Regions from separate parts of the Homo sapiens genome. Here region 2 is linked to region 1. The links come from fine-mapping of genetic effects on gene expression. A gene starts in region 1. The other region holds a variant in brackets. All regions are shown on one strand. Distances are between the middles of the regions.

Region 1 (3,005 bases):
ATTAAGGCATGCGCCACCACACCCAGATAATTTTTTATTTTTAATAGAGACGGGGTTTCTCCATGTTGGTCAGGCTGGTCTCGAACTCCTGATCTCAGGTGACCTGCCCACCTGGCCTCTCAAAGTGCTGGGATTACAGGTGTAAGCCACCACACCTGGCACAAAACAAAGTATTTACAGGTAACCAGGTGTATAGAAAGAGTGGTGCCACGAGCCAGGTCACAGATACTTCTAAATGTGTTGCTCAGTCTCTGAGAAGCCAGGTCCATGGCTTTGAACCTTGCAGATGGGAAAATGTGGACTAAAATAGAAAGCATGTGTTCTTCCTCACCCTGATTATCTAGTCCTGCAGGCTTGTTGGGAGCAGTAGAAAGGACATAAGACTCAGCCACAGGCCCGAGTTCCAACTGTAGCTCTGACATAACCAGCTGTGTGACACTGGGCAATTCACGTAACTTCTGTGGGCATCTCCACCCTTGTTTGCAGATGAGATCTGCCCCCAGCTCTAAGATGTTTTCCCTGGCTGGATAAAATGTCGTGCCTGGATAACGTCCAAGATTGGAGACCACCCCGCTTTAATGTCTAACTGGGCCACTCCTTCCCTGGAATAGCCACTTAATGTCCTCAAACATACCGGAGTTTCCCCATCCCTTGGTTTCAGGTATCCTCCCTCAGGAAGATGTTGCAAGGACTGACTAATGCACATTAGTGTCCCAATAACGATGCCTGCTGCAGGTGCTGGGACTTCCAAGTCTAACCTAGGCTGGCAGTACGACCCCACTGTGATCTTAAAGCCACCTTTCTGTCCCGTCTCTGGGGCTTCCCATCCCACCCTATGTGATTACAGCTTAAGTCTCAGATGATGTCAAATCCTTCTGCCAAAGACCCTGATGCATTCACAAGAATGGGTTGATAGATAAGGCTAGTTTACACAGGAGGGGGAGTCCACGTTTAAGGAAGCAAGAACACCGTCTCCAATGCCCCCTCGAAGGACACTCTTGAGATCTTCATCTTTCCCAGAAACCACTGAAAACATCGCCCACATGGAAGGATGCTTTAAAGCCTTCTCCTTCGGTCCAGAGAAAATGAATTCTCCGAGTTTTCCTTTGGTTTTGTCTTGTTTTTAACCTTCACACGTTAATTTCCAGGGTTTCCCCCTCCTGGTTCCAGACAGCACCGATCATGAACTCATCTCTGATCGTCGTACGGTGAGTTGTAACCGCCCCCCCACCCCCCATCCACAGGGCAATTCGGAAGGTGGAGAGGGTGAGGTGGGAGTTTCCTGGGCAACCGGGCGCACACCCGCGCCCACACGGACAGGAAAAGCTTCGCTGTCTACGCAGGTGCGTCCCGAGCACCTGCGCACCTGTTGCGCGGCTCCCCACAGGTGGGCCCTGTCTCTTGCACTGGCCTGGAGACACCTGGGAGTAGGTGATTCCCCTGAGATCCGCGCATGTCTCTGTGAGGCGAGAGTGGGTGGGCAAGCGGGGCTGCGGCGGCCGCAGCGGGAGGGCGGGGTGGTCCCGAGCTCAGAGCCTTTTCCCGACTCCCACCCGGCTCAGCCGTCCACGCGTCCCGGACGCGGCAGCGCAGTCGTGCGGCAGGAGACCCCGTGGGACGCGCCGCAGAAGCCCCCAGGGCCCCGGCCCTCGCGCGTAGGGGACTGGAGACCCTGCGCGTCTCCTCCGCGCCTTCCTGCCCGGCGCCTGCACCTGCTCCCCGGCTCTCGGGCCCCTGGCTGGAGCGAGGCGGGAGGCGGACGGCCCGTATGCAAATATCCTGCGGGGCCGGGGCCGCCTCCAGAGCCCGGGATAAAAGGCGGGGCGGGGCGCGGGGCAGCGAAGCCGCTGCCTCCCGGGAGCCGGCAGAGCGCTCCGGCCCCGCACCCGCCGCCCGTCGCCCGCAGCCCCCTACCGCGCGGCCCGCGCCCCGCCGGCTCCCGGTAAGGACGCACCGCGGAGCGGGGACCCGAGGCAGGGGCGGGGTGGGGACACAGGCACGGGGTCCGGCTGCGCACCAGCCTGCGCTTTCCCATTGGAAACGTGGGCAGCGTGCACCTCCGCGCGCTTCCCCGCGGCCGGGCTGGTAGCATCTCCGCAGGTGCTGCGGCGGGCCAGTTCGTCCCCAGGCCATGGGCAGTCAAGGCGGAAAGGAGCTGCGTTGGGTCTGCGCGGGGTTAGGAGAGAACAAAATGCCCTCGGATTGGAGCGGGACCGGGAGTCCGAAAGGAAGAGGTTCCACCAGGGGTCTCTGGCTCCTCAGAGCTTATCCTGCTTTCCCCCAGCCGTCCGGAGACGCCGCGGGGAGGCAAGCGGAAAGGGGGAACCTGGCCGAGGGGGAAAGGTGCGGGTGTGGACACCTGTGAAGGAGCAGCACGAATCGAATCGGCCGTAGAGGCTGCAGACGCGGCCGCGAAACCACCGGCCACGCCGGGCAAGGGACCCAGCACTGCTGAGCGGGCACCTCGCCTAGTGGAAAAAAGACTTTAGTAGTTCCCCTCACCCCCTACTACTTTTTTTTTTCTTATTTAAAAAAATCCTCTGAAGTCTATTTTTAAAGCTAATACCAATCACAAGGTTGGCCAGTTTGACCTGCGGTTTGACCTGGTAGCCTGTTGTGAAAATCCCTTCCTCATCCCACGCCTTCCTCCACCCCATCCTGCATCCCAGAAGATGCAGTGTGGAAGGAAGACAAATATTCCCCCAGAAGGTGTCCGCCTCCAGCTTACTGTCCTCCCGTTTTATGATGCCTGATAGGGGTTGTTCACTGAGGTGGAGAGAAAGAAAGGAACCTCTCCCTCCTCCTCTGCTCCTGAAAACCAGCCAGAACCACTGCAGGGACCAAGGAGCTTTGGAGTTTCGGGAACACCTGAGGGCTGCCCAGGTGGAGATAAGAGCTTTGCTTTTGCAAATGGATGTCCTTGGAGCTCATCCTAGAAAGGATGAATTGGAGGGTAGGGAGTGGTGAGGCGGGGATATCTGACACATCTCTCCTTCTGTTTCTGT
Region 2 (2,500 bases), 20 kb after region 1:
AGTCTCCAGAACTTCAATGTGTGATGTTTCTTTCTATCCCAAATGCTTGGGGGATTGCCCAGTGATTCCTAAAAGACTGTAGGCCCCAGGGGATTTCAGCAACACTTCTCTGGGAGCTGAGTTCAGGTCCTCCTTACCTGTTCCTTCCAAGGGGAAAACTTTCTTTTTCATTTTTTGAGACCAAATCTCACTCTTGTCGCCCAGGCTGGAGTGCAGTGGCGCTGTGTCAGCTCACTGCAACCTCTGCCTCCCAGGTTCAAGTGATTCTGCTGCCTCAGCCTCCCAAGTAGCTGGGATTATAGATGTGTGCCACCAGGCCCGGCTAATTTTTGCATTTTTAGTAGAGACGGGGTTTCACCATGTTGGCCAGGCTGGTCTCAAACTCCCGACCTCAGGTGATCCGCCCGCCTTGGCCTCCCAAAGTGCTGGGATTACAGGCGTGAGCCACCACACCCAGCTGAAATTGGCTTTTTGAAGAGGGTAGAGCATTACTGTCTGGACCGCATGTGGGTGACTCTATAATGCCAGCTTGGCCAATGAGAATTCCGTTCTTAGTGACAAGAGTAACTTTGCTGGGTGGCTCTACACAACTGTATGCAGAGGGGAGCCCCTCTAAAGAGCTAAAGATCAGCTCGTTATTTAAACTTCCAGTTTCTGTGAAGCCAAGTTGGAATTTAAAGCATGGTGTGTCTGTGTCCAGAGTCCCCAGGGGGAGCCTCCTAGTGAGCCTCACTGGACCTTTGTTTTTGTGAAAAGAAAATCACTTAATTGCTGTGGAGTCACATTTTCCTGGTGACTTTGCTGCAGGGCATGACGATTTCATTGTCCCTTGGTGGAGGAGGAAGTAGAGAGACAAAGGATGGGGTGAGGTGCCCAGGGGCTCCTGAGTCACCAGGGGAGGCAGGGAACACAGGGTCCCCCTGGAAGCTTCTGGGCCTCCCCTCTCAGGTGTGGGGGCCCCTCTTGTGTGGCTGCAGGAGTGAGGCTAGGGCAGGTGGCCCCTCTCATCAAGGTACTCTGACAGTGGCCGGGCACTGGCGGGCCTGGGGTTTTGGGTTATCCAGAGCGGGCATGCTAGCACCTGCTTTCACGGATGGAGACTGGCTTTAGGGGAAGGCTGGGGGTCAGGACCAGCTGACATGTGGCCACCAGTGAAGTGACCTGGGGCAAGCTTCTGGGCCTCTGTGCACTCCATTTCCTCAGCTCTAAGGGC[C/T]TTGGCTTTGTGTGTGGAGCATTCAGATATAAATCCTTAGTGGTTTTCTGGGGGCAAAGAGAAGCTCCCAGATGCCCTCCCTCCGATCCTGCCGTGTAACCTGGTTGCGCTCTTCCCAGGCATCTGGGTTCCTCCCTCCCTCCCTCCTTCCCTCCTTCCTTCCTTCCTTCCTTCCTTCCTTCCTTCCTTCCATGGAGTCTCGCCCTGTGGCTTAGGCTGGAGTGCAATGGCATGATCTTGGCTCGCTGCAATCTCGCTTCCCGGGCTCAAGTGGTTCTCCTGCCTCAGCCTCCCGAGTAGCTGGGATTACAGGCACGCACCACCACACCCAGCTAATTTTTATATTTTTAGTAGAGACAGGGTTTGGCCATGTTGTCCAGTCTGGTCTCCAACTCCTGACCTCAGGCGATCTGCCCACCTCGGCCTCCCAAAGTGCTGGGATTATAGGCGTGAGTCACCACGCTGGCCTTTCTGGGTAATTTCTGACAACCAAACAACTCTATCCTGCGTTTGCTAGAATTTTCCAGAAAATCCAGGGAGGGAGAAAGCCTTCTCTTTGGTGTTGCATAGACTTGCCCTCAGGATCCTCAGAACCTGTATCCACTACTCCTCAGCGGGAGAGCTGGAGGTGGGAGACCCAACCCTTCCTTCTACAAAGAAGGGAGCGGCCTGTGCAGTTTGCAGGGCAGAAACCCTGGAGACACTGTGTCTTAAGGCTACATAAGAATCTCCTCTGCTCGGGCCCTGCGATCTGCAGCCTCAAGTATTCACCTCCAATTCCAGCCCTCCTGCTGGGGTGCAAGGCTTCTAGGCACCCGCCGGCTGCTCCTCTCCCCATACCCCTGGACTGGAAGAGTCCTGGGGGCCCTGCATGGCAGGAATGTCCTGGCTGTGGGTGCGGAAGAAGAGGAGACAGATCTCAGGAGCCCCCCTCACCGTTGGGATAGAAGCCCTTCAGCCATCCTCTACCCCAGGGCCATTCTACCACCCCTGAACGCCTTGGGGTCCAGGGTTTAGAAATCAGCAGGGCTAAGAGGTGCCCCCGTAGTGTTTGTGGAAAGGAAGGAAAGGGCACGTTCGGTACAGACCTGCCACAGGCAGATTTGTGAAGCTCCTGGGCGGCCCCTTCTCGCCTGATCCCCCACCGCAGCTTGCCCGTGTCTGGAGGCTGCCTGCCCAGCACCCAAAGGCCTCCAGTCCCTACCTGCCCTGCCTCACACCTGGGCAATGCCCCCCACTCCTCCCACTCCATCTTACCCAATTTCTTCCCTTGGGGATTCCCCAGAT

Evidence for each region.
Region 2: its variant is fine-mapped to the expression of ATP6V1C2 in aorta (GTEx, PIP 0.93).

The regions. Positions count from the first base shown.
Region 1 is chr2:10,719,790-10,722,794 of GRCh38, forward strand. ATP6V1C2 (ATPase H+ transporting V1 subunit C2) reads left to right here and starts at 1,841. Exons shown (of 14, transcript NM_001039362.2): 1 at 1,841-1,942.
Region 2 is chr2:10,740,528-10,743,027 of GRCh38, forward strand. All of the region lies in intron 3 of ATP6V1C2 (ATPase H+ transporting V1 subunit C2), which reads left to right. Among named protein-coding and RNA genes, the nearest start is that of ATP6V1C2, 20 kb to the left of the region's middle. The variant C/T (reference allele first, on the strand shown) is at 1,214.